7 linked regions of the Homo sapiens genome follow. The protein of the gene in region 3 purifies or fractionates together with the protein of the main gene of each other region. This does not show direct contact. Each region holds a gene or a part of one and is shown on either strand. Other genes may lie near its edges.

What was found.
Region 1: the proteins of GMFB (region 3) and ALAD purify together in Homo sapiens (affinity purification with mass spectrometry; one large-scale study listed by BioGRID and IntAct). This does not show direct contact.
Region 2: the proteins of GMFB (region 3) and CORO2B purify together in Homo sapiens (co-immunoprecipitation; one large-scale study listed by IntAct). This does not show direct contact.
Region 4: the proteins of GMFB (region 3) and ACADL purify together in Homo sapiens (affinity purification with mass spectrometry; one large-scale study listed by BioGRID and IntAct). This does not show direct contact.
Region 5: the proteins of GMFB (region 3) and HDHD5 purify together in Homo sapiens (co-immunoprecipitation; one large-scale study listed by IntAct). This does not show direct contact.
Region 6: the proteins of GMFB (region 3) and RIPK2 purify together in Homo sapiens (co-immunoprecipitation; one large-scale study listed by IntAct). This does not show direct contact.
Region 7: the proteins of GMFB (region 3) and MCCC1 purify together in Homo sapiens (co-immunoprecipitation; one large-scale study listed by IntAct). This does not show direct contact.

The regions. Positions count from the first base shown.
Region 1 is NC_000009.12:113,388,529-113,391,419, forward strand, and holds part of ALAD (delta-aminolevulinic acid dehydratase), read right to left. Parts: intron 2,406-2,891; coding exon 2,270-2,405; intron 2,149-2,269; coding exon 2,065-2,148; intron 1,966-2,064; coding exon 1,877-1,965; intron 1,301-1,876; coding exon 1,245-1,300; intron 1,159-1,244; coding exon 1,071-1,158; intron 997-1,070; coding exon 910-996; intron 579-909; coding exon 449-578; intron 1-448.
Region 2 is NC_000015.10:68,711,377-68,715,402, reverse strand, and holds part of CORO2B (coronin-2B), read right to left. Parts: intron 3,862-4,026; coding exon 3,697-3,861; intron 1,479-3,696; coding exon 1,362-1,478; intron 845-1,361; coding exon 740-844; intron 189-739; coding exon 92-188; intron 1-91. UniProt on the Homo sapiens protein: May play a role in the reorganization of neuronal actin structure.
Region 3 is NC_000014.9:54,485,793-54,490,469, forward strand, and holds the start of GMFB (glia maturation factor beta), read right to left. Parts: upstream 3,189-4,677; 5' UTR 3,136-3,188; coding exon 3,133-3,135; intron 1-3,132. UniProt on the Homo sapiens protein: This protein causes differentiation of brain cells, stimulation of neural regeneration, and inhibition of proliferation of tumor cells.
Region 4 is NC_000002.12:210,222,245-210,226,825, forward strand, and holds the start of ACADL (long-chain specific acyl-CoA dehydrogenase, mitochondrial precursor), read right to left. Parts: upstream 3,204-4,581; 5' UTR 3,020-3,203; coding exon 2,943-3,019; exon of another isoform or gene 2,169-2,942; coding exon of another isoform or gene 2,155-2,168; exon of another isoform or gene 2,071-2,154; intron 1-2,070. UniProt on the Homo sapiens protein: Long-chain specific acyl-CoA dehydrogenase is one of the acyl-CoA dehydrogenases that catalyze the first step of mitochondrial fatty acid beta-oxidation, an aerobic process breaking down fatty acids into acetyl-CoA and allowing the production of energy from fats.
Region 5 is NC_000022.11:17,142,054-17,146,079, forward strand, and holds part of HDHD5 (haloacid dehalogenase-like hydrolase domain-containing 5 isoform 2 precursor), read right to left. Parts: intron 3,117-4,026; exon of another isoform or gene 3,065-3,116; coding exon 2,971-3,064; intron 1,079-2,970; coding exon 1,045-1,078; intron 156-1,044; coding exon of another isoform or gene 16-155; exon of another isoform or gene 1-15.
Region 6 is NC_000008.11:89,767,446-89,771,471, forward strand, and holds part of RIPK2 (receptor-interacting serine/threonine-protein kinase 2), read left to right. Parts: intron 1-2,326; coding exon 2,327-2,484; intron 2,485-4,026.
Region 7 is NC_000003.12:183,068,319-183,072,344, reverse strand, and holds part of MCCC1 (methylcrotonoyl-CoA carboxylase subunit alpha, mitochondrial isoform 1 precursor), read left to right. Parts: intron 1-987; coding exon 988-1,135; intron 1,136-1,224; coding exon 1,225-1,346; intron 1,347-4,026.

The sequences.
Region 1 (2,891 bases), on a different chromosome or scaffold from region 3:
CAAGTCATTTCCTCTTTTGGGGCCTCAGTTTACCAAAGAATAAAATGCACAGTGAAGGAAATAGGTAAGAGGCAAGTTCCTTCCCATGCTGGTGTGCAATTCTAACAAAATGAGTCCCCTTTATGGAGTGATATTACTTCATTTAATCCTCAGGACAACCACGCACCAGGTATCTTATCCCCAGTTATCCAGTTATGGGTGAGGACACTGAGGTTCAGAGAAGTGGCTTGCCCACGTTCTCACAACCAAAAATGAAGGGCTCTGCTTGCTTCACCGGGCCGTGTTCTATGCTGCAGTTCCATATCTCTTCCTCAGTGTGTGTCTGTTTAGATCACTAGTAATTCCCGGAATAAGATCCCAAGCTCTCAGGACGTCGTTCCCCAATCTAGGCAGAGTGCTTATCAGTCCCTGTGGCGCAGGTCAAAACACCCCACCCTTGCCTGCCTACCTGCTCTGCGGAAGGCAGTCATGGCCTCCAGTACGGCAGCCTTGAGATCAAATGCCCCGGCCTGGGCTCCATGCCACAGCATGGCAAACTCTCCAGAGACGTGGTACACGGCGAGAGGGAGGTCAGGGTGCTGCAGGGAAGCAGACAGGGAGACAGGCTGAAATGGAGGGTGGATGTGGCTCTGGAAGCGTCCCTTCCCCCCTGCTCAATCTGTGACCATCTTGAGCCCCGTGTCCTGGGTTACTGCGGCTGGCAGCCTGGCCCACTCTTGAACTGTTAAAGCAGGGCTGTTTGAGGCTCGTGCAAGCCCCGACATAGAAGGCCACGATGGTTCCTGGGCAGGGAAGGGGAGGAGAGGATGCATGCTTAAGGGCAAACTGCTTCCAACTCTGAGATTCCAGAGTCTGTGGAAAACTCTGTCCCAGCCCCCTGAGCCCCCTTTGCCTCGTACCTGTGCTCACCTTGTCCTTTACCTCCCGCACGATGTCCAGGTAGGGCATTCCCGGCTTCACCATGAGCATGTCAGCTCCTTCCCGTACATCCCGGTCCTAAGGGATGAGGGTATAATGTGGGTGGTGCCTAGGAGGGGGCTGAGGGTGGGGCTCAAGTCCTAGTCACTCACCACAGCTCGGAGAGCCAGGCCTCGTGCTCCAGGGGGCAGCTGGTAGCAGCGGCGGTCCCCAAAAGCTGGGCTTGACTTAGCTGCATCCCTGCAAAGCAGAGTCATCAGGGTGGGCTCCAGCTTTGGGCCAAAGGGCCAGGGATTCACAGCAGACCCCTGCCCACCCCTGCTCACCGGAAAGGGCCATAGAAACAGGAAGCAAATTTGGCACTGTAGCTCATCACCGATACCTATGGGGAGACAATGGAGGTCTTGGCTTATTCGGCCCTTGCCAGGTATCCCAGGGTGATGTGGCAGGGAGAGAAAGAACCTAGGCTGGGAAGGAGACTGCCTGTGTTCTGGTCCTGTTGGAGTGCTGGGCTTGATTTCCCTGCAGAGGCCCAGAGGTTTAAATGGTTCCCCAAAGCCTCATCCAGCACTGTCTTCAGTTCTGTGATTCTTTTTTTTTTTGAGATGGAGTCTAGCTCTGTCATCCAGGCTGAAGTGCAGTGGCATGATCTCAGCTCACTGCCTCGTGGGTTCAAGCGATTCTCCTGCCTCAGCCTCCCCAGTAGCTGGGATTACAGGCGCCTGCCACCACGCCCAGCTAATTTTTGTGTTTTTAGTAGAGATGGGGTTTCACCATGTTGGCCAGGCTGGTCTTGAACCCCTGACCTCAAGTGATCTACCTGCCTCAGCCTCCCAAAGTGCTGGGACTACAGGTGTGAGCCAACACGCCCGGCAGTTCTGTGATTCTTAGCAGACACGGGGGCAGGGCTGGTGCAGACTATCTCCTGCCAGCCCTGTGCTGCATTCCCTGCCCTTACCCTGTTGCCAAGTCCATGTGCCATCAGGGCCTCTTTGATGGCTTCCACGCGTCCATCCATCATGTCCGACGGGGCTACCACCTGACATCCTGGGGGGCAGAGGGTGGCCTTCAGAACTCTGGGGCCCTCCTAGCCACTCTGCCACCTCCTGACCCAGAGGTGCCCATCCCTGCTGGTGGTTCACTCACCTGCCTTGGCATACGCCAATGCCACCTCAGCCAGCCGCTGGCGGCTCTCCTCAGCCCGGAATGCTCCGTTTTCACTCAGGAGCCCTTCAGGACAGATGACTGGGTTTTGGGGAGCACCTTGGGCCCTGGCCTGTCCCCACCCTGTTGAGAAGTGGGCAGTAGGAGTGTGGGTGGCAGCAGGGCTGGTGGGAGGGAGGGAACTCACCGCAGTGACCATGGGAGGTGTAGGGACACAGGCAGACATCACAGGCCACCAGGAGGTTGGGGAAGGTCTTCCTCAACAGATGGATTGCCTCAATAGCTGGGGACTCCTCGGAGTCAGCTGCGGAACCCCGCTCGTCCTAGGGGCAGGGGAGGGACAAAGCAGTGTGTCTATTACATGTAGCTTTGGAAGGCAGGATGACAGCCATCACAGAGCATAGCCCTGGCCTTCTCCTTCCTTCATCATCACAGCCCCTGGATAAGGAAGCACAGAGGACTGACCCTACATGGGTGCTGACTTAAGGGCAAAGACCACGTCCATTCACCTGTGGCCCCAGGGCCAGCACAATGTGGGAGTGAGGGTGCAGTCAGTGTGGACCCTCAGTCCACCTTTGCCCAACCTCCCTTCCTTTTTCTGTTTGTATTGGAGACAGGGTCTTGCTCTGTCACCCAGGCTAGAGTGCACTGGCGCGATTTTGGCTCACTGCAGCCTCGACTTTCTGGGCTCAAGCAATCCTCCCACCTCTCCACCTCCCGAGTAGCTGGGACTACAGGCACATACCCCCACACCCAGCTAACTTTTGTATTTTTTGTAGAGATGGGTTTTGCCATGTTGTCCAGGCTGG
Region 2 (4,026 bases), on a different chromosome or scaffold from region 3:
GATTTTCCACTTAAGGGAGGGGGTGACCCATGGGCCAGATGTCCTCCCGTGCCATGAGCACACCAGCTGTGGCAGCCTCGGGGCCACTTACCTAGGCCTTTCTGCGGGGCTGGGGAGCGGAACTCCATGAGGTAACTCAGGTAGGGCTTCTCAGTGCTGATCTCGTAGTACCGGATGTTTCCATCACCCTGGGGTCAGGAGAGATGGAGTTGAGGAAGGTGGCAGGTAGGGAGGGCAGAGCAGGGCCTGGTCCCAGGAGCCAGCTGAAGACAGCTCTCCCCTGTGCCTCATGGGCAGTTAAAAAAACCAAGGAAACCTGGCTTCTAGGCTCCTAGTGGGTGCACCACAGGGGACTCACTGCGGGTGGAGAGGTGGAGGTGGATGGGCTGATGTGAGTGTGTGTGTGTAGACAGCCTTTCTGACAAACAAGGCTGTATTCACCAAGGATCTCCTGGCGGGTATCTCAAATTCCATCATTCATCACTGACTACACTGCAGGCTCTGATCTTTATTCCAATGTAAAAGCCCGCTCCAGCTCACCTTTGAAGGAATTCTTGGTAGCAGACACTTGAGTAAGAATGGGTGTCAGACTTGAGGGCAGGTGTGGATGGGAAAGGTGAGGCCCAGGAACTTGGAAGGTTAGGCTGGCTACTCTCCAGGGGGTGGGGCAGGTGCAGGGGTGCATTGAGGGTAGGGCTCTCCCACAGGCTGCCCCGGGCCCTCCCCCACCTCCTACTACCTTTCCAGCCAGGTAGAGCATGTGGGTGTCAGCATCATAGAAGGGGAACAGGAGGCCAGAGAGCCCATCAATTTCCTCTTCGATCAGGGGCATGGAGAGGTCCTCCTGAGGGAGAAGAGCTGGTCTCAGCCTCTCTGCAGGCAGGATGGCATACCCCTCCCCAAATCCCAGGAAGGCCTCTTAGGATGGCAACTACTTTATGTTAAGACCTCCCCTAGATGTTAAAAAGCCCGTCCTATGGGTGGTGGCAAGACTGACTTTCTTGTCACGAAAAGCAGCCAGGGGCAGTGGAAAGGGTCTTACAAACAGGAGGCAAGGGACTTGTTCTCATTGTCCCCAAACCTGCTACTTGCTATGTGTCCCCAGGTAAGTCTCTCAATCTCTCTGGAGCTCAGCCCCCACTCTGGAAAAAGAGGGTGAACATCTTGCAGGTGTGGCCGACATTGTTCCTTGAAGCCTCTGTACCCAAGCTCGGCCTCTGGGGGTCTCTGTCTGATTTCTCCACTGGGAATGCTATGAGAAGCTGGTGTGCGGGCCCAGGCTCCTGACTTTCTGAGGAAGTGACCTCCGAGGCAACGATGCTTCCTTTAGCCCAAACCCAGCAGGCCTCCCCGTGGCTGACCTGGTCCCAGAGGGCAATCTGTCTTGTGTTCCACCTGGAGACCCCTGTCGTGAGGAGCCGCTTCATGTTCCCCAGGAACACCACCCGGTTCACTCTGTGGTTTTTGCAGTTGGCCTCCTAGTAGGAACAGAGGGAGGTGGTGAGCCAGGGTCCCCAACATGTGGGTTCTGCAGTGGCATGAATGGTGGTCCCGAAAAGATACACCCATGTCCTCAGCCCTGGCCCCTGCAATTATTTCCTTATTTGGAAAAGGGTCCTTGCAGATGTGGTTAAGCTAAGGATTTGGAGATGAGATTACCCTGGATTATCCAGGTGGATCCTGGATGCCATCATGAGTGTCCTTGTGGGAGAGAGGTAAGATTACAGAGACACACAGGGGAGAAGGTGTGTGACCCTGGAGGCAGAGACTGGAGTGATGTGGCCACCAGCCACGGGAGCCGGCAACCCCCAGAAGAGGCAAGGAATGGGTTTTCTCCTAGAGCATCTGTAGGGAGTACAGTCCTGCTGACACCTTGATGTGGGACATCTGGCCTCTGGAATGGTGAGAGAATACATTTCTGTTGTTTTCAGCCACCTAGTTTGTGGGCATTTGTTACAGCAGCCATAGGACACTGTTCTAAGCACTGTGCAGCAATGGCTCCACAGATGCCTTCTCTGCCATTTCCCAGAGAATGTGGGGAACAGGGAGCGAGAGGGGAGCCAACGTCCACCAAGTCCAGTTGGGGGCTACACCACTTCAGGAGCTCTCACCAGGGGCATTGCTTTTCATCCCCATAACAATATCTATCGGAAGAAATCATTATCCCCATTTTGAGGGTGAGGAAACTGAGGCTCAGGAGGACAAGAGACTCATGCCCATCACTGCTTCACAGCTTGCCTCATCAGGGAGTGCCTCCTTAACTGAGCTGTCTTGGGCCTCCTTTCCTGCCCACTGGCTCGTGACACTTGATTTCCTCCTAACACACAACAGTCCTCGGCATCAGGTAAGTTGGCAGCAAGTCAGAAAAGAGGCCAATGGGGCAGTGCACATATTCAGGCTGGCGTCACACACTCTGAACTCTAGTTCTAGCTCCACCAAAAAAGTGTAGCCCAAGAGAAGACCTTCACCTTCCCTGGGCTCATGGCCCCATTTGGGAATTGGAGGTGGGGGTTCTCTGTTCATAAACATTCTTTCTGCTTGGCATGGGCTCTGGGTTTGAATCCTAGCTCCTCCTGGAACTGTGAGATTCGAGTCTCCCAACTTCGCTAAGGTTAAGTGTTCTCACGTATCACATGAGAGGAGTAACAGCACCCAGCTGAGAGGGTTGTCCTGAGGATTAAATGAGATGATGTGCAGAGCCCCGGGCACAGTGCAGGCCACACAGTGAGCTCTTAGCAGATGTCAGTTAACACTAATCATGCTAAGCAACTCTCATTATTCTTATTTGTAGTGGTACAGGTTGAGTAGCCCTTATCTGAAGTGCTTGGGCCCAGAAGTGTTTCAGATTTTGGATTGTTTCCGATGTCAGAATATTCACATTATACCTACTAGTTGAGCTTCCCACATCCCCAAATCCAAAATCTGAAATGTTCCAATGAGCATTTCCTTTGGGTGTTATGTCAGTGCTCAAAAAGTTTTGGATTTGGAGTCTTTTGGATTTTGGATTTTTGGATTTGGGATGCTCAACCTATAGTACTAGAAAACTTTCTGGTCTTGTAATATTGGACTATTCCAAGGTAAACACACCCAGATCAAGCATTAATCCCTTCTTGTGTAGAAGGCAAACCTCAGATATCATCCATATTTTCCATTCCATCTCTCCCCATGACCAGCACACAGCAGGTGCTCAAAAAATGGTAATTTCTTACTTCCAAATGGCACTTAACCCCTTCCTCAAACCCAAGACCCAGGAGATTCAAAGACCAAAAGTGGAGCTAAGTTCACCATCAGCCTTGGCACCCTAGCCATTTCCCTCAGGCTCATCCTATCAAGTGGCTGGGCAGTGAGTCCAGTGTCTCCTCCTCCTGTGCCTGTGGTGGACCTGGGTAACACCTGGGGATGTATGCACTGAAGGGTGTCACCAGTTCAGCCCCCAGAGCAAGCCAGAAGAATCCTGTCTGGAGGTAGGGGGTGCAGTGGGGACAGGAAAGGGTATGAGGTCCCTCCCCACCCAGAACAAGGCAGGGTTCCTATGAGCTGAGAAGGGCCCAGGAGAGAGAAAGGTTGTTCAACAGAGGTGCAGTGAGATGCACTGGAGAAGGGGGCTGGCACAGCCTTTTTCTTCCAGGCCTGCTGAAAGCTGAGCCCCAGCCCTCAATACCTTCCCCTTCAATCTCAAAAAATGTAGGGTTCCACCTGCAGAACACGGCCAGAGCGGGGCTCAATCACACGCAGCTTCTTGTCCTTGCACGTGGTGGTGAGCAGGCTGCCGTCCGTGTTGAAGGACATGCAGAGGATCACATCCGTGTGGCAGTCAATCATCTTCACCGGCTCACCCACATCCAGGTTCCAGATGAGGACCTGCGAGGGCAGATGCATGGGAGGCAGGGTCAGTGGCTGCTAGGGTCCTGGGGTGTTTGTCCCCAGTGCACACTTGACTGCCCTGGGAGAAGCGCCCCATGCAGGGCCTGGGGTGTGCTGGGGTGCAGGAGGGGGTCATTGAGTTCTATATGGAAAGGCTGATAC
Region 3 (4,677 bases):
AAACCACACACACAGGCCAATGAAACAGAATAGAGAACCCAGAAGTAAATCTACACATTTATAGCCAACTCATTTTGGACAATGATGCCAAAAACATACACTGGGGAAAGGACACTCTCTCCAATAAATGGTGCTGGGAAAACCAGATAGCTATATGCAGAATAAAACCAGACCCCGGGCCGGGCACAGTGGCTCACGCCTGTAATCCCAGCACTTTGGGAGGCCGAGGCGGGCGGATCATGAGGTCAGGAGTTCGAGACCAGCCTGGCTAACATGGTGAAACCCCGTCTCTACTAAAAATACAAAAATTAGCTGGGCGTGGTGGCAAGCGTCTGTAATCCCAGCTACTCGGGAGGCTGAGGCAGGAGAATCGCTTGAACCCGGGAGGCTGAGGTTGCAGTGAGCCGAGATTGCACCACTGCACTCTAGCCTGGCGACAGAGCGAGACTCCATCTCAAAAACAAAAACAAAAAAACAAAAACAAACAGACCCCAACTCTCAGCATATACAAAAATCAAATCAAAATGGATTAAAGACTTAAATGTAAGATCTGAAACTATACAACCACTAGAAGAAAACACTGGGCAATTGCTTCAGGACATTGGTCTGGGCAAAGATTTTTTTGAGTAAGACCTCAAAAGCACAGACAACTAAAGCAAAATAGACAAATGAGATCATATCAAGCTAAAAAGCTTCTGAGAGGAAAGAAAACAACGAGTGAAGAGACAACCTACAGAATGGGAGAAAATATCTGCAAATTCTCCACTCAACAAAGGATTAATAATCAGAATATACAAGGATCTCAAACAACTCAATAGCAAAAAATTCCCATTTAGTCCTAATAATAGTTAACATGTATCAGACCCTATGAGAGAAACACTGTTATATCCTTTACATAGATTTCCTTTTATGTTCAAAACAATCTCACGAAACAGATACTATTATTACTCCCATTTTGCAAGAAACTAAGGTTTAGAGAGGTTAAGTATCTTTCCCCAATTACATAGCTAGTGGAGCCAGGATTCAACCCAGGCAGCCTATCTTAACTCACTCTCTTAACCACTACAAAGGAGGTGGTGACAGATTGGATATTGGGGGTGGGGGTGGGGTGTGAGTAAGCAAAAAAAAGGGTTACCAGATATACTAGGCTTCTGGCTGGTATAACAGATTGTCTTGTATAACAGACAGAAGACTAGGTTTGAGGAGAAAGGGCATGAGTTCTACTTTGGACAAACTGAGGTGGCTTTGAGGAGACCAAGTGGAGGAAAAGCTTCCCAGGGGAATGGTAACTAAATATTGAAATATTAATATATAGATCTGGGGTCAGGCGCGGTAGCTCACGTCTGTAATCTCAACACTTTGGGAGGCCGGGGCAGGTGGATCACTTGAGGTCAGGAGATCGAGACCATCCTGGCTAACATGGTGAAACCCCGTCTCTACTAAAAATACAAAATTAGGGCCGGGCGCGGTGGCTCACGCCTGTAATCCCAGCACTTTGGGAGGCCGAGGCAGGTGGATCACGAGGTCAGGAGATCGAGACCATCCTGGCTAACACGGTGAAACCCCGTCTGTACTAAAAATACAAAAACAAAATTAGCCGGGTGTGGTGGCGGGAGCCTGTAGTCCCAGCTACTCGGGAGGCTGAGGCGGGAGAACGAACGGCGTGAACCAGGGAGGCGGAGCTTGCAGTGAGCGGAGATCGCGCCACTGCACTCCAACCAACGCGACAGAGCGAGACTCCATCTCAAAACAAACAAACAAAAAAACAAAATTAGCCGGGCGTGGTGGCACATGCCTGTAATCCCAGCTACTTGGGAGGCTGAGGCAGGAGAACTGCTTGAACCTGGGAGGCGGAGGTTGCAATGGGCCGAGATCCCGCCATTGCACTCCAGCCTGGGCCACAAGAGTGAAACTCCGACTCAAAGAAAAAAAAGTACATACAGATCTGGATTGGATCTCAGAAGCAAGGTCTTCTGAGCTGTAAATTCACAAGTCATCTGAATATAGATGGTAACTGAAGCCATAGTTTAGGATGAAGAATACAGAATGGAAAATGAAGGATTAGGATGAAACCTGGGACTCCTTCGAGCATTGTCCAGGGAAAGGAGAATAGTCTGAAAGGGAAACAGATGGACCAATAGGAGAAGTAGGAGGAGCTCTGTATCCCAGAAGCCAAAGGGGAAGAATGAAGGAAGAGAATGCTTCAAAAACAAGAGAGTATAACACTCTGGAATGCAGCTAAAAGGTCAGAGAAGACGAAAACTGAAAAGAATCCATTCGATTCAGTGACCATGACAAGATCTATTCGATGAAAGTGGGCTGAGAATTGAGTGGATGGTCACAGAGAGCAGTGTTTTGTTGTTTCTAATGAAATTTACCCATATTTTAAAACCTAATGGGATGGATCCAAAAGATCCTTGATGGCGATTTATTTAATTTTCCACTTTATTTTTATGCTTGGGGTCCATCCCATGTAAGAACAGAAGCCACAGCCCCCAGAACCAACAAAACTAAAGTTATTGACAATTACTTTAAGGCCCAGTGCCAAAGCTTTGGGTCGAAAGGTTTCCAACTGCCATAGGAAAGCAAAGATAAGGAGAAATCCTCTGTAGGAAGCTAGGGAAAGGAGCAGAGAGAAAGAAGCTAAGGTGAGGCCGAGAGAATTCAATCGGAATTCGAGTCCTCCCCCAAAACGCCGCCAGGTGGAAGATGCTCGGGGCCCACCAACCCCTGGAACCTGGCCACGGCCCTGGCAGGGAAAGCAGGAATTGAGGGAGCCCTCCGATGGGGCAGACCCCTTTCCCTCCAACCTACAGCTCAGAAGCTGAAGCCCTCCAACCAGAAGGACCTGGCGTGGGGCCTCCCCAACCCCCCTGCTCGTGGCCGCACCCTAGTCCCATGGCCCGCTGGGCGGGTCCACCCCGGGCCCAGCTGGAAGATGCTGCCCTGAGGCGTGGTGGCGGCGGCAGAGGCCAAGTACTCTAGCTATGGGCACTGGCCAGCTGCTGGGAGCGGAAGCGGCCGCCGAGCCCTCCTGGGCGCTGCCCGCCGCCGCCGGCTCCGGAAACCGGGAAAACCCGGCTGGCCGGCTCGCCCAGCCCTCCGGCCCCCGCCCTCCCAGCGGCAACTCACCATTTTCCTTCCGGCCGTCAGCGGCCTGTCGCCTACACTCGGGCGCCTTTAAGAATGGCACGGCGGCCGCCTCCCTTCCTGCCCCGGCGCCTGGCCCAGTCGCCCCCACCTATCAACGCGGCCTCAGCGGGCCGGCACGTGATGGCGGACGGCAAAAGGCGCGGCTCAAAATTAGACAGAATGCGATCGCCTGATTTTTTTTTTTTTTTTTTTTTTTTTTTTTTTCTTTTCCCTGCTCCCTCTAGAGGAGGACGCTCTGCCTGGCTGCAAGTGAGAAACAAACCCAAGGTGCATACTTAAAAGTCATGCCAGTTCTCCGGACCTTTTTCGCAGTCTTCAAGCTCTGAGAGCATGTTAATGGTGACATCAATGTTTTCAATGGTAAATGTGTGTACTGACCGCAGCCTACCTTCCAAATTTGATCTCCCTCAAATCTAGGCACACCTCCTTTCCTCCCACCCTCTCCAGAACCCCACTTCTGACCACGGCTGCCTTCCAGGACTTGGTTAATCAATCTCTCTCTCTCTCTCTCTCTCTTTCTCTCTCTCTCCCTCCCCCTTTCCCTCTCTCTCTTACACACATTTCTTCTCTCTCACACACACACACATTTCTTCTCTCTTCTCTCACACACACACATTTCTTCTCTCTCTCTCTCGTCTCGCTCTGTTGCCCAGGCTGGAATGCAGTAGCACGATTATAGCTCACAGCAGCCTCAAACTCCTGGGTTCAAGCAATCCTCCTACCTCAGCCTCCCCAGTAGCTGGGACTACAGCCGTGTGCCACCACACACCCGGCTAATTTTTAAATTTTTTTGTAGAGATAGAGTCTCCCTATATTGCCCAAGCTGGTCTTGAACTCCTGGCCACAAACAGTCTTCCTGTGTGCCTCCCAAAGCGCTGGGATCACAGGCGTCAGCCACCATGCCCAGCCTCTTTTCTCCATACAAGTTATTTATTGAAGTATGAATGAATGATGATTGGTGTTTCAATGAGCACTCTTATGGGCCACTGCCTAAGTAAACATCAAGAAGTCTCTGTACCAGATGCAGACTTAGTGGAACAAGTCCAGTTTTGAATGCATGAAGAAAGTGGTTTGGGAGAAGTAAAGTTTAGGCTCTAGGATTCAACAGGTACCTTCAATAAAACAAACTGCCTGGGGCAGTACCTCATTTTGTTATGACCATGGGTTCTTGGTCTCTCAATGCAAATTGACCTGAGGCCAAAAGAGTTTCTCCAGGCAAGGCTTCATTGGAGCTTATGCCGGAGCATAAGGGAGGCAGCATAAGAGAATGAGAGAATTCCCTGACTGACTCTCCTAAAAGAGCACAACAAATTAGGGGTAGTTTATGCAGGTCAGCATTATCTGTTTGCCAGGGTTGTCTTGAGTAATGGGCCACCCAATGGTCTGGTTTGCGGCAACAAGGCTGTGAATCAATTGTTCAACATTCCTCTCCAAGGTGGGACACTCTCAACCTTGGTTATCTCCTAAGGCCAGTCATTGGAATTCTTTAAATAAAAGGACTATTAGCAGTAAGGTAGTGGTGTG
Region 4 (4,581 bases), on a different chromosome or scaffold from region 3:
ATAAATATGCAAATTGTATAATACCTTAGAAGGTGGTAAGTATTATGGAGAAAGAAAAGTAGAGAAGGGATCAGGAGTATGTGCCTGGGGGGAGGCAGAGACAGAGGTTGCCGTATGAAATAATGTAGTAGGCGGGGCTTGGTGGCTCACACCTGTAATCCCAGCACTTTGGGAGGCCGAGGCCTGAGGATTGCTTGAGCTGAGGAGTTTGAAACCAGTCTGGGCAACATAGTGAGCCTTGTCACTAAAAACAAACAAACAAACAAAAAAAAAAAAAAAAGGAAAAGAAAAAAAAGTGCTGCAGTCAGGGTAGGTTAAACCAGAAAGGTGAGATTTGAGCAAACCCTTGAAGGTGATAGAGTTAGCCAGGCATACCTCTAGAATAAAAGAATTTTAGGACAAAAGAACAACTAGAGCAAAGGCTGTATGTCTGAATGGTGTCTGATGTGTTCTAGAAAGAGCAAGGAGGCAATTGTAGCCAGAGTGGGCTGAGAAGAGTAGATGAGGCCAGAGATTCTAGGAAGAAGAGATAACAGGGGACCAGGACATGCAGGGGACCTTGACCATTGTCCTGTTGCATCAAATAAACTAACATCTACTTTATCCCTATAATGGAAATGATCGGCTCCTTTTTCTTGCTAGTAGAGATAAAATTATAAAGCACGTATTTGTCCATATAGATTTTCCATACTTGAGAGTTTCCCTCAGGAAAAAAATATGCTGAGATTAGGAAACTGGGGCTGTAAGACACCGAATCATTTGTCAACATAATGAGTAAACAATAGAGCCAGAATTTAAAATCGAGTCTTACTGGATCTTAAAATTGAATAGCCTGTACTGTGTTAAGGAAATCTCTGCAATATTTTTAAGTAAAATATATAAAGACATAGGAAAGCAAAAGAAATGCCAAACGAATAAAGACTTTCAGGTCAGTCAAAGGTGGTCAAGAGAGAATATGCAGAGGGAAGAAAATCAAAACACTTGGCAGCAAGTTTATTGCAACATGTATTTCTCAGTCTAAAGATGAAGAAATCTGTAATGGAAAAATTGGCATTTTTTTCTCTAAGGCAATAAACTGCAACTAATCTTATTGGCTAGGCTATTATTGTTTTTTTAAAGTCTCCTACATTTTAAAAGGGAGACAATCTCCACCAGCACCTTCCACACACCTAGAAGCTGGTTATAAATACACAATCTCAGGCCCCATCCCAGACCCACTGAATCAGAAGCTGTATTTTAACAAGATTCCCAGGTGATTCCTTTGCACATTAAAGGTAAAAAAGCTGTTACAACAAAACTGTAGCCCCCCAGCCCATTCAGAGGGTCTCTCAGGTCTCCCTTTTTCCAGTGTTCTCTATTTGAGGGTAGATTTTCTTGCCATGCTTCAATCAAACTAACTTACGCCAATGGATAAAACAGAAGCAGATATAGTTATCTGGTTATCTTCTATTATGCCAGACATTAAGGGAGTTGTAAAAATGTAAAACAATGTCACTCTTTTCACTTTTTTTCTGTTTAGGAAAAGTTATTTTTCATAAAAACTGTTATTTATGTTAACATGTAATGAGCTTCTTATTGTAACTTTTAAATAAACTAAATATCTGTAAAGTTTCTCAGTTATGTAGATACCTTTCGATAACGACAGACGGATAGATATAACCTACATAAACAAAAGTCCTTTGAGGTCCTGTTTAAGAGCATAAGGGAGCCCTGTTATCAAAAAGTTTTGAGGCAGCACTTTGGGAGACCGAGGCGGGCAGATCACGAGGTCAGGAGTTTGAGCCCAGCCTGGTCAATATGGTGAAACCCCCGTCTCTACTAAAAAGATCAGCCGGGTGTGGTGGTGCGTGCCTGTAGTCCCAGCTACTCAGGAAAGCTGAGGCAGGAGAATTGCTTGAACACGGGAGGCGGAGGTTGCAGCAGTGAGCCAAGATCGCGCCACTGCACTCCAGCCTGGGCGACAGAGTGAGACTCTGTCTCAAAAAAAAAAAAAAAAAAAAAAAAGTTTGAGGATCACTGTCTTATAATGTTCCAAGGAAGAGTTAAGTATGTATCCTAAAGAAAAGTCACCTTCTCAGTGACGTCTTCCCAAATCTCCCCAGGAAAAGTAGGCATTTTGTTTCATAGCTCTCAAATAAAATTAGAGTAGCTTACACCAATGCTGTCATTCGCAAATTTGCCAGTTCCTTCACCCTTATTAAATAATGAATTCTCCATGCTTCCAATTTGTTTACCCAGTGAATAGATTTTATGCATCAGACAGTATCTGAAACTTTTGATCATATTATAAACACCACCTTAGTAGTCACTGAACTACTTAGACTCTGTCTTCATTAATCCTCTGTATTTAGTTAGATTTGTTGATATATCTAAAGCTAATTTCCTTGTTTGATGGAACCCTCGCCAGGTCATTTCTAGCCCAGTTTGTCCTGGACAATTCTGGTCCGCGCCGCAGCCCGGGCACTGAGTCCGGGTCCCAAGTTCACTACCGCGCGGCGAGTCTAAGCCGTGGGGAACGCCGGGTTCACAGCTCGAACTGGGACACAGATCGCAGCCCGCGCTCCTGCAGCCGGGCCCAGGGGGTGACCACCTCCTCCCAAAACGCAGGCTCCCGGGTCCCACTGCAGGCCGCTGAACTAGACGGGTTGGATTGGGGCTCCGGAATGAACTTCTGGAGAAATCTTTCGGCTTTCCCCGACGTGGGCTCGGCGGTCTGTTCTCGGGGCGGCACGGCTGACACCCCTTTTTCCTCCGCCCAGATGCTGGTTGCACCCAGTCCGCGGGATCCAGGAAAGGAGGCCAGCTCTAGCCCGGCGCCGGAGTTGGGGAGCACTCCCAGCCGCGCGCGCACCGCCCTGCTTCAAGCCAGCGACAGGAGTGACTCGCTGCCCCACCCCACAGCCTCCCGGCCTGCAGCCGCGGAAGTCCCGGCTGGCACTCACCGCGCGGCGGGCAGCTGGCGCGGCGCACGGTGGCCGCCCAGGACGCGTAGGGACCCTCGGAGAAGGCGTGCGGCCATGTCCGAAACACAGGGGCGGCGGGGCGACGGAGGCGACTCTGCGGCTACTCGGCGACTCGGGGCAGGGTCCCCGGGAGGGAGGACGATCAGCTGAGGCGTCCACCTGTGGTGTCCTCCCAAAAAAGCGCTCGCGCGCGCCCTTCCGGAGCCCCAACCACGCCACAGGCTGGTCGCGAGGGAATACGCCCGTCTTGGCTGTCAGCAATAGGATTTTACAGCGAAACTGCTGCCTTTGCTTGCAGCATTCTTTCTTGTTTATCGAAGCAGCTCTGAGCCTTTTTAGCGTCCTGAAGCGCTTTGAGTAACGGATGAAAGCTATGGAGCCCCCAAATACGCGCAAATACCTAACCATAAAAATGTACGTGAAGTTTATTTTGTAACCTTGGAAATTGATTTACTTAAAGTAGGCTGAATAGTTTGAGCAAACCCTTGAAGGTGATAGAGTTAGCCAGGCATAGCTCTGGGAGCCCATGCTATTTATTGGTAATAGCAAGTAGAACGAATTAATCCGACACAGGATTTAGTAGAGACAGGATTTCACCGTGTTAGCCAGAAAGGTCTCGGTCTCCTGACCTCGTGATCCTCCCGCCTCGGCCTCCCAAAGTGCTGGGATTACAGGCGTGAGCCACTGCGCCCAGCCCGTTCTGTTAATTCTTAAATGTCCAAGTTCAAGTACATCCGTTGAACAATTACTCTCGCCCTCAGTGACATTTCAACTAATAAAAGCATGCCCTGTAGAACTCTCAGGTAAAAGATGTGAAATATCCCTCAAGGGAAACATAAATGGCTCAAAGGGTTCATGAAATCCTGGGTGATTGGCTTAAACTATCTGGGTAGTTTGCTTGACTTTTCATTTAATTTTAGCACAGCTAACTCTACATTCATAAACATATTTGTTCTTACTTCACAAAAGGAAACTCAGTAGAAAAAAACTGATAAACATGCTAACCAAATGTGATTCAAATTAACTTCACCAAGAATGGAACAAACTAGCATTAGAGACACCTGTATTGAAAGGAACACCACATTATTTATATACTGTTGGGAAAAAAGGCTGAGGGTTGGGAAGAAAGCTGAGGCAGGGCTTGCATGACTGACATAATGTCCTCTGGAATGTGTCTAGACTTGCTGGCTCCTTGCTTTTAGCCCTCCTAGGCTCCTATTCCCATTATCTCAAGTAGCAGAACATGTTCCATACAAATGTAAACCTCCATTTACTCACCTGTAAATGAAGAATAACAATATCTATGTCATAGGGTTGTTGGAAAGATTTTTCAGATAACGGAGGTCAGGTGGTTGGCACAAAGACAGGAATACAATAAACATTCGATAAATGGTAATTATTATTGTCATCATTGAGAAATACTCATATTTTGTAGTAGATAAAAGAAAGAACAAATCCTTTAAAAAAACCCTCTACTTTGTGTATTCCAATGCCTATTCAATTAGAAGGCAAATGTTCAAGAAAAGGAACTGCTTATGCTTTTCCTCTGATACCTGGTAGTAAATGTCATGGACTACACGGTCCTTTCTAAACCCCATGAAAATGCCAGCTTCTTTAA
Region 5 (4,026 bases), on a different chromosome or scaffold from region 3:
TATCCCACACTAAAATTAATTTTTAAAAAAACCATCCCATGGCTGCGTGCGGTGGCTTGTGTCTGTAATTCCAGCACTTTGGGAGGCCAAGGTGGTAGGATTGCTTGAGCTCAGGAGTTTGAGACCAGCCTGGGCAACATAGTGAGAGCCCGTCTCTACAAAACAACAAGAAGAAAAAGAAAAAACTTTCCCATGTCCTCATAACATTTGAATGTCCCACCTGATATCCTGGTATCCACACAGGTGAACAACCTTTTCAGAATTACTTGAACGATTCTATTTTACATACAATCACAAAGCATTTTTGTACAGCTTCAATAAACATCAATTTTTCCAAAAATACAACTATCGTGTAAGTCAAGAGAAGACTGTACTTTGCCTTTTCAAAACTCTACCAAGAACTGTTACCTATTTTGGAAAATCACTTGACCAACGGCAATGCTGCCCCTAATTTCTGAGTCACCGGTAAAACACGCCTGTCACACCTATAAACACACATCAGCCTGCATTTGTAGCTGTTAACATTCATGGTGATTCTGTTTAGTGCAACCATTTTACTTCTTGGATAACTACTACATACTGAAATACATTATCTTCTTACTAAAAATGTTTCCTTTTATATCCCCCTATTACAGTTAGGGCTTTATACTGAACTAATTTTTAATATGTGTGTACAGAAGTTATATTACCTAAGAATTTCACTTCAGGATAATAAAGGGGATATTCCAATGTTCTTGGTATAAAAAGGGGAGAACTGGGTTTAAAAGTTGAGAAACACTAGACTAGATCACCTCTAGGTGTCTTTCCACCACTAAAATTCTCTAAGCTTACGGTTTTCCTGGAATAGTGAGTGGCATGGGGAAGGAAAGACTAACAACAGTCTCAGAGGTGGTAAGTGGCAGATCCAGACCAGAGCCCAGGTGTCCTGACTCCAAGGCCCCTTGCTGCTGAACCAGGCTGCAGGCAGTCACACTGAGACAGCCTGAGGGCCAGAGAGGAGACGGAGAAAAGACCTCACAACTCATCAAAGAGGACCTCTCTTACCTTCAATGCGGGGGAAGTCATTCCTCGGGAGGGGCTGCAGAGAGACAAAGGAGAGGCTATCAACACAAGTCGCCTTCCACTCCAGGAGAACCACAACCCCACCTCCAGGGTGCTGGGAGGGGAGGGGAGACACACTCCACAGACCCCACACCCGTGGTCAAGCCCAAGCCAAGGGAAAGCTGGAGAGGACTGAGAAAGATGCAAGAAAGGCGAAAAGACAATGGCCAGGTGGGGCCACAGAACAGGCAGGACACCATGGGTGAAGTCACCAGGAGGAAGGGTGGTCAGCTGTCTTTCTCTGGTGGGAGAGGACACAAGATATAGCCAAGCAAGAGTCTAAAATCAGGCAGCTAAGGTGAGGCCGTGGAGACGAAGGCGGCATCACGCCTGATGGGCCATTTCTCCTCATGTCGGTTCTTGAGCAGGCAGCTTCACTCGACCAGCCTCGAGGGTCCACTCCATCCCCAGGCCATGGTAGTCTTGGCTCTGCCACTAAACAACTATGTGACCCGGGACAGGTCACTCCCCTGTGTGGGGCTGTCTCTGAGCTATTCCGAGATCTGTTCCAACTCTGACATTCTGGTTCTCCACAGAACTTGCACAGGTCAGGGAGAAAGCCCTCACAGGGGAGGAAGTGCTCTGTTCCATCAGAAAGCGCTGGAGGAGGAAGGACTTAAGCTATATCAGCAAATAAAAAGTAAGTTATCTGTTTATAACTGCATGTCGTCAAACTGTGAGAATGGTCTGACTCAAGACCTGGGCTATGTGATACACAGACGGTGCGATGAGGAGAAAGTGAGCCAACGGGCACCTCAAGAGATGGCAGTCATGCTGCAGAGGATCACCAAGGGATCAGATGAGTTAGGGGACAAAGTCAGTGCTCAAAAATGAGCCCAGCGCACAGGGCACCTGGGCAGATGTGCAGACTGACCAGTGCTTCCTCTGCAAGCAAGCTACCTCTCCCGAGGGCAGCTCAGTGCCGGGCCTCAGGATTGCTAACTTCACAATGGCCAGCTCTCCTGGGCAGCACTGGGAAGGCCAGCCAGTAAGTCTGGAACTCCTTGTTGGACGGGATGCTGTGGCTCTGAAACGGGTTCCCAGCTAATTATAAGCAATACAGAGAGGACAGGGCATAAAGCCGTTCGCTTCTCTGGGCTTTTTCCTTTTTTTTTTTTGAGACAGGGTCTCACTCAGCCGCCAAGACTGGAGTGCAGTGATCACAGCTCACTGCAGCCTCCAACGCCTGGGCTCAAGCAACCCTCCTGCCTCAGCCTCCTGAGTAGCTGGGACTATAGGCATGCGCCACCATATGTGGCTTTTTTTTTTTTTTTTTTGAGACGGAGTCTCGCTCTGTTGCCCAGGCTGGAGTGCAATGGTGTGATGTCAGCTCACTGCAACCTCTGCCTCCCAGGTTCAAGTTATTCTCCTGCCTCTGCCTCCCGAGTAGCTGGGATTATAGGCATCCATCACTGTGCCCAGCTAATTTTTGTATTTTTAGTAGAGACGGGGTTTCACCATGTTGGCCAGGCTGGTCTGGAACTCCTGACCTCAGGTGATCCACCCGCCTTGGCCTCCCAAAGTGCTGGAATTACAGGTGTGACCCACCATGCCTGGACAATTTTTTAAATTTTTTTGTAGAGACGGGGTCTCACTATGTTGCCCAGGCTGGTCTTGAACTCCTGGGCTCAAACAGTCCTCCTGTTTCAGCCTCCCAAAGCGTTGGGATTACAGGTGTAAGCCACCGCAGCCAGCCTCTGGGCCATTCTCATAAATTCAGGGAACAAAACCCTTAGCCAGATGTGCCTCCAAAGAAGCATGGACAAATCACAGCTCTGCAGGAGGGCTTGCAAGGTCAGCGACACAGCCAATGCAGGGCACTGGAGGAGTGAAGGATGAAGACACAGCCCAACCCATGCTCCTTATTACCGTGGTCTTTAGCCGCCGCTCCAGGTCCACCATGTCAAGCAGAGGAAAGGCCATCCGCAGCTCATCCACGGTGACGACATTTCGGAAGCCCAGTCTGGAGCAAGCTCAGGAAGTAATGCTGGACAGTTCTTGGGGAAGATGCCTTTCTGAATGCATCAAATCACAAGTGAAGGGAACACAACCCACTCCTGATCAAGCCAGGCAGGAGGGCACCAAGCAGAGCCCAGCAAGGATGGCACAAATCCTGCAGGTGCTGGCAGGCAGGCTGTAACTGCACAGGTAGAGTAGAGAGGGCAGCTCCTGGGTAACCCACCAGCAGTCACCAGGCACATGCCAGCTACCAGGTCCTATGCTGGGCACAGCCTAGGGGGCAAAGGCACATAAGAATCTCTGTCCCCAGCTGGGTGCAGTGGCTCATGCCTGAAATCCCAGCACTTTGGGAGGCTGAGGCAGGAGGATGGCTTGAGCCCAGGAGTTCCAGCCAGCATGGGCAACATAGTGAGACCTTGTCTCTACAAATAAAGTCAGCTAGGCATGGTGGTGCACACCTGTCGTCTACTCAGGAGGCTGGGGCAGGAGGATCATTTGAGCCCAGGAGGTCAAGGCTACAGTGAGCTATGATTGCACCACTGCACTCCAACTTGGGCAACAGAGTGTGACCCTGTCTCAAAAAAAAACAAAAAACTCTGTCCCCAAGGAGCTAGCACATTCAGAGCCCATCAAAACCAGTGTTCTCTGAGAACAGTGCTGCTAGTCAGTGCTGAGTTCAGAAGAGACTCCTCAGTGGGCTGGGGAGTCCAGAGGAGTCATGGAGAAGTAGGGCTGGAGCTAAAATCTTAAAGGATGAACCCAAATCATCAAGGAAGAGGCGGCCTTGGGGAGGGGCAAGCCAGCTTCAGCCTATCTCCTCTAAGATCTGCCTCCATTTTCCTATCCTCAATTCCAACTTGCAATCTTAACTGGACATGGTTTGATTACTCTCAAAATGAATTTCCCCAAAATCCTGATTCTATCAGATTGCCCCATCAGCAATAAAGCGTGCCCTGCTTTCCACTG
Region 6 (4,026 bases), on a different chromosome or scaffold from region 3:
TTTTTATTGAAGACACTCCTCTCCTTAGAATAAAGTGGTAGGGGAAAGGAGAGAGAAGCAAGCTGCTGCCTCAGTATTGCTAAGAAAAAAAGAGACTAATCTATTCCATCAATTATAGAACCATCAAGTAGAAATACCTTAATGGTCAACTAGTTCTCTGATACTTCACTGCAACAATCCCTGTCTCCCAAAGCAGTTATCCTGTAACAGGGAGTCTTAACATCCTTAATTGAATAATTGTGACATTTTCTTAAATGATCAACCAAAATTCCTTCCTGGTTGCTTCCACACATTGATCCTAGTTCAACTTTTTGTGATAAACAGAATAAATCCAATTTAGTTACTTCAGCAAGACAGCCCTTTCAATATTTGAAGATAGCTATGAGCTGTCTCCCAAACCCTCACGTACAAGTGCATTTTATCCATCTCCCTGATAAATACCCTTTAGTTCCTTCAACTCGTTTTCTTATTACATGGATTTTAATCCTTGGTGCTATGTAGATGCATCATTTTGTTTAAATCTCACTTAAATGTTGATCGTCAGAACTGAACACAATACTATTTTTGGTGCGGTTTGATGAATGCAGACTTTAGTGAAAGTGTCATTTCCTTGGCCCTAAATACTTAATAGTTCCTTAATAATTCATCAGCTTTCCAGGGGTAGTCATATCACATAGTTCAAATTGGGCTTAGTGTCAACAAAAAACCCTTGGAGGTTCTTTTTGCCACGTATCGTTGCTTAAGCCACCTCTTCTTAAGCAACAAAGTACACAAAATAATGTACTTTGCAGAATACTTTCTAGATATGATCAAATTTTATCTTGTTAGATTGGAGCAATTGCTTCAGTCTCTTAAGACCTTTTTGAATGTTATTTCTATAATCCAAAGGTTTTAAGTTTCTCTCCAAGTTTTGTGTGATGCTGAAATTTAATTAGCTAATTTTTTGTATCTTTAAGTCATGATTAAATATGAACCAGTACAGAGCTTGAATCAGAGCTGTATCACATGGCCATAAGAACCTTCATCTGGGTCAATATCAGTCCTTTTGTTAATCCGCGCTTTTGGAGAACACTCATTCAGTTTGTCTGGAATACTCCTAAAAGTGCTATTATACAGCCCATATTTCTTCATTCTGTCCTTAAAAATTTTTCTGAAAGTCTTTGCTTAACTGCTTTTCTCAGCTGTTCTCATGACTTAGTCATCTTGGTCCTTTTCTGTGAATTCAATTTTAAAATTCTTGATTATTTTTATTTTTTTTCTTAAATTGACTCTTTTATTGTAGCAAATGAATGAAAAATTCATTTATTCTACCCCTCCTTTTTGGGAATGGAGGCCATAATTTTTTTTATCTCAAATTCATCTAAATGCTAATAAAAATTATGTATTTTGTTAAAATTGGTAAAAAATATAGGAGGTAAACAATGGAAACAAATGATGTGCTGCATGGAGCTCATTTCACTCTGCTGAATTCTAAAGTATGCAGTAAAATATTTTAAGTAATTTCAGTGTCTTTTAGGATTTCCCATACTCCCTTGTCAATTAAATATTATTTCTGTTCTTACATTTTGTCTTACATTTTTAAAAAATAAAGTAAAAAATAAGGAAGCTTTTAAATATTTAGTTATAAGATACTGTATAATATGTGCATAAGATTTACAACTGAAGCAAAACTGTACAGGACATATCAAAGGCACAGAATATTGTCACTGATAATTCTTTAGGCACCCATTGTATTGGACATAAATATGTTTTCTTTGCAATTATACTGTTTCCATGAAATACTTCTTTTAGTGATCAGCATAAAATTGTATAATAATTACCTTTACAATTTTGAGATTTAGTGTATTTCTTAATTTAAGGATGCTACCTTTAGGGCATTATTAATACAACTGTATAAACCAGAATTGTAAACAATGACCAGTGACAATTGCATGAGATGTGAGTAGACTTGGCAGCTCTGTGAGATGTAGGAAGCACATGGTATCAAGCTATATGTCATGAAAAGTAAGGTGTGCAAGGTACACACTCATTGAGAATATCAGACAAAAAATGCCTCTGCTCAATTTTCAAAAATTAGTCTCTCTTTTGAAATTTGTAATGTTATATTAAACTTTAACTCAGTATGTATTGCTCCTAGAGTTATTTGGCTCAGCAGTGTGGAATTTAATTTTGTAAGAAGTTGGGGGAATATACAGAAATAAAATATTAAAATATATTACATTTTCTCTGGTTTGATATCTAAATACAGTGAATATACAAAAAGATAGTTGACTTTTGGACTTTTTAAAGAGGAAATTTCTTAATTATTTGCTCTTGTCCCTTACAGATTGCAGATTTTGGTTTATCAAAGTGGCGCATGATGTCCCTCTCACAGTCACGAAGTAGCAAATCTGCACCAGAAGGAGGGACAATTATCTATATGCCACCTGAAAACTATGAACCTGGACAAAAATCAAGGGCCAGTATCAAGCACGATATATATAGGTAGAGTAAAGTTGCTTCTGCTCAGATTTAACCTTGTCTCAGACACAAAATTAGTCAACCAGAATTTTGAAGCTACATTTTAAACTGTGATTTTTATTCTTCTCTCATAATTGTGGTGAAAATAAACTTGAGGCCCCACGGTGATTAATATTTTTCAAATTAAGGAAATTTAATGATTTGCTTTAAGAAACTTTTACATCCTTTAAGAAATTTTAAAGCATCTCTTCTTATCCTATCAATTTATAATATAATAGTTAAGGATTTTTATCATATGTGACTTGGAAATGCAGAGGGAAACAGTGGTTCCTAACATTTTAGCTTTAGGTTTCTCAACCTGTTCAACCTTTTAGCTTTTGATATCTATATATCTTTTTAGATAAATAGACAAACTCTTAATCACACTGGGGATATTTCTATTTAAAGAATCCCTAATATTTGTATATGTGTGAATTTTTTATACAACAAATCAATGGGTTTGATAAGATCATATTTTCATATTTCAGATGCATATTACTTATAATCTCATAATGCAGTAATAAGCATAACACATTGTTATTGACACTGGTTATTTAACCAGAATAAAAGGAAGATGATTATTTACACAGGTTTAGGAGATGGGGACATTCACCTCATGTATAAGTTACTCTTATCTCTTTTAATATACTAATGAATGCAAAAGCAGACTCTCTAAGTTTGCTCTGAACACATTTTATAGTCCTTTAAATGGCTTTTTGCCATCTTTAATAAATAATTTGTTAATGAATCATTTTAGGAATGAATGCTATATCTCTACCAGAAAACTATATATTTAATTAAATTGCATATTCCTTTTCTTCAAAAGCATTTTAATTTTTGTTATTTCTCATTAAAACCAAAGCCAGCCAATCCATTTTAGTGGCTGCACTAAAACAATTCATACAGTGTCTTTTACATTCACATTGTATGAATATAAGAAACTGTCCTTTTATATTTTGTTTTCTGATATTTTTAATTCATTCTGAATGATGTACTGAGGGGAGGAGAAATGTATTTATAGCTTCCTAAGGTAGAGATCATGTTCTACCCAACAATTCTTAAAGCTGGTTTGATTCTATAAAAATGGGCCAATAAATCTGCCAGTCATTCATTTTGTGAATTTTCCCTTTATGTTCAATTTCAATATTCTCTGTCAGGGAAAAATGAGGAAATATTATTCCTTCATTTGGGTAGGAATTCCCTCTGTACTCCTCGCTCTCCCTGTAACACAAGGTGTTAGTAGTAATAAATTCTATGTGTCCATTTTGAATGCATGGTTAATGTTGGGGTGTGGCAAAATTCTTATATCCTATTTAACCATTTATTCTAATTATAAACTCTATGCAGCTTAACCCTGTAATTGACATCTGAAGTTAAACTGTAGGCAAGATATTTCTACTACCAAAGAAGATAGTGCTGAGAGCAGAAAAAAGGCAGTAGAATAGAGCTCCATGAGACAATTTTTTTCTTGTTCTTTGTTCTTTGTGAAAAATAATATCATTTAATTAAAGGGCATAGCTTATCTGG
Region 7 (4,026 bases), on a different chromosome or scaffold from region 3:
AATATAACTGTATGAAGGTCAGTTGAAATAGTTTGGGCCAGGCATGTGGCTATGCCTGTAATACCAGTGTTTTGGGAGACTGAGGCAGGAGGATAGCTTGAGGCCAGGAATTCAAGACCAGCCTGGGCAACTTAGTGAGACCTTGTCTCTCAAAATTCTTTTTTTTAAATCAGCCAGGCCTGGGCACAGTGGCTCACACCTGTAATCCCAGCACTTTGGGAGGCCAAGGTGGGAGGATCACTTGAGCCCAGAAGTTTAAGACCAGCCTGGGCAACACAGGGAGACCCTGTCTCTACAAAATTTTTTAAAAATTCCAGGCATGGTGGCACGTGCCTGTGGGTCCAGCATCTTGGGAGGCTGAGGTGGGAGGATTGCTTGAGCCCAGGAGATCAAGGCTGCAGTGAGCTGTGATCACACCATCATACTTCAGTCTGGGTGACAGAGTAAGACCCCATCTCAAAAAAAAAAAAAAAAATTCAGCTGGGTATGGTGACACACACCTGTAGTCCCAGCTGCTTAGGAGGCTGAGGCAGAAGGATCACTTGAGCTCAGAAGTTTAAGGCTGTAGTGAAGTATAATTGCACCACTGCACTCTGGCATGGGCAACATTGTGAGACCCTGTCTCTAAAAAAAAAAAAGAAATAGTTTGTTTTACCTATAATATTTTAATTCTACCCTTCTGTTGTCATAGGCATAAGTTATTTATCTGTGACATAGAGAAATTCTATTGAGTTACAGAAAATACTTAATGTTTCTAATCAATATATTAGTATTTTGGGATTAAAAAATAGGGTGAGATGAGCTACCACATGAAATGAGGGAAACTAACTAATAGACATATTAAATTTGTATTATTTTGTCGTCTCAGACTCGATGTTTTCTTTAAAGAGTTCCATTGTAATTTATAGACTGGGCTATATTTATGTTTGTCTTGAATGAAATAATTTGTAGAATTTGGGGCATGTTGTTTTCTTTCCCACTCTAAAGCACATCCAAATCCATAATGGCTGCTGCTGGAGTACCTGTTGTGGAGGGTTATCATGGTGAGGACCAATCAGACCAGTGCCTGAAGGAACACGCCAGGAGAATTGGCTATCCTGTCATGATTAAAGCCGTCCGGGGTGGAGGAGGAAAAGTAAGATTGTGCATGCTTGTGTTTGCCAATTCAGGCTTGTCTTCTTTGTTTTATTTATGTTGTAGTCATAATCATCTTTTCTCTCTTAGGGAATGAGGATTGTTAGATCAGAACAAGAATTTCAAGAACAGTTAGAGTCAGCACGGAGAGAAGCTAAGAAGTCTTTCAATGATGATGCTATGCTGATCGAGAAGTTTGTAGACACACCGAGGTGGGTTGGCCTTATTTTTCTGACTCAGAGTTTAAAAATTAAATTATAAAAATAATGCATGCACATTCTATAAAATATAAAACTGTAGTAGTATATAAGTATATTATTACAAGTTTCCCAGTTCTGTCCTGTGATGTAACCACTGATTGTAGGATGGTATGCATTCTTCCAGCCATTTTCTATGTGAATAGAAACCTATATACATATACATACAGCAAACAAAATACATACCTAAGAACAGTGAATAGAATTTTTTTTTTTTTTTGGACGGAGTCTCTCATTCAGTTGCCCAGGCTGGAGTGCAGTGGCACGATCTCGGCTCATTGCAACCTCTGCCTCCCGAGTTCAAGCGATTGTCCTGCCTCAGCCTCCTAAGTAGCTGGAATTACAGGTATGCCCCACCATGCCTGGCTAATTTTTGTGTTTTTAGTAGAGATGGGGTTTTCCCATGTTGGTCAGGCAGGTCTCAAACTCCTGACCTCGTGATCCACCTGCCTCAGCCTCCCAAAGTGCTGGGATTACAGGCGTGAGCCACTGTGCCCGGCCAGTGAATAGAATCTTATACACTAATATTATATCACAGACATCTTTCCATGTCAGTAATTGTAGATCAGCCTCATTCTTTTTGTTGGTGACCTAGCGGTTCTATGATCTTGATATACCATTAATTCATTCAGTATGTTTCTTGTTGATGAAATTTAGGGTTTTTTTTCAATATTAGCAAATTATTGTAATAAATTCAGCTATATTTATAGAACTCTGTCAGTTGAGATGCTCAGGAAATGGAAGTAATTTTCTAAATTGAATTACAAGTGATATGCTGTTAATAGGAGCTAACACTTACATTGCACTTACCATGTGCCAGATTTTAAATATTTTACACATGCTAAATAATCTTGCTGTCCTTCTAATTCTAATATAATTCTTACAACAACCTCATTAGGTAAGTACTGTTTTCATTTTACAGGTGAGGACACTAAGCAACAGAATGGTTGTGTTGTGTTACTTTTCTGAGGTCACTCAGCTGTTAAGTAGTAAAGCTGAGATTTGAACCCAGGCACTTTGACTCCAGAGTTCATATCTAAGCCACTGCACTAAGCTACTTCTCTGGGTACCACTATAGCAAATGCAGTGTGAATCCCTATTTTTTTTTCTGGAATTTTATTTTCATGTTTGTTGTTTAAGATGCTGATTATAAAGTTTCTCATTTCATAGATTTTTATGACAATTGTTAAATTTTATATATATATGTGTGTGACCTGTAAGTCAAGTGAAAAGAATAATTTATTTGGGAACCATGACTGGAAAGAGATTTACCTTGAAGGTAACAGACTTGAAACTTCAGGCCCTTCTTTGACATTAATCTCTTCCAAGACCCTGACCTAATTTTGTATTTGCAGTTTTGTATTCTTCTCCTTAGAGAAGACCCCCAAATTGTTTTTTGTTTCAGGCCCTATAAAACAACTGTCCTGAGCATGGCATAGTAAATGAAATTCAATTAAGGCAAAAAAAAAGGGGGGGGCATTTCTAAGGTACATTGAAGGCTTCCTTTCAAGAAAGAATAGGCTAGCCATCCAAATCAGCATGCTCTTAAGTTAGAATTGTGGAGACATCAATAGCTTATTTCAGTAACTTATTTCAGAGACATCAATAGCTTATTTGAGTTATTATGTAACTCCATGCCTGCAGCATTTTTTGAATATGTAAGTTCTTTACTTATGAAATGTTAGCCATACATTGCGTCACATTATAATTTATTCCCCCAATAGCTGGAAAGCCCCTGGGAATCAAAGACCTGGTAGTATATACATTTTTATTTTTTGTATATATTGCCTGGCATACTACTTTCCTTGTAATAGGCATCAGTAATATTTTTTGAACTATAGAAGTAATATGAATACATTACAAATTTTTGGAAAATGCAGAAGATGGAAAACAACCCATAATTGTATTCTCCTAATTATTATTAATATTCTTATATACAGTCATGTGTTGCTTAATGACAGAGATACATTCTGAGAAATGCATTGTTAGGCAATTTCATTGTTGTGCACACATCATAGAGTGTCCTTACACAAACTGAGATAGTATAGTCAACTACACACCTAAGCTATGGTATAGCCTATTGCTCCTGAGCTACAAACCTGTACAAACGTTACTGTATTGAATACTGTAGGCATTTGTAACACAATGGTAAGTATTTGTGTATCTAAACATCTCAAAACATAGGAAAGGTAATGTATTGTGCTATTATGTCACTAAATGATAGGAATTTTTCAGCTCTATCATAATCTTATGAAATCACCATCCTATATGCAGTCTGGCATTGATGGAATGTCATTGTGTGGCACATTGTGTGACTCTATTTCTATTCTGTATTTCTAGTAATAACTTCTTTTTAATTGAAAGCAAGTTTATTAAGAAAGTAAAGGAATAAAGAATGGCTACTCCATAGACAGAGCAGCCCCAAGGGCTGCTGGTTGCCATTTTTATGGTTATTTCTTGATGATATGCTAAACAAGGGGTGGAGTATTCTTGCCTCCCCTTTTTAGACCATATAGGGTAACTTCCTGACGTTGCCATGGCATTTGCAAACTGTCATGGTGCTGGTGGGAGTGTAGCAGTGAAGACGACCAGAGGTCACTGTTGTTACCATCTTGGTTTTAGTGGGATTTAGCCA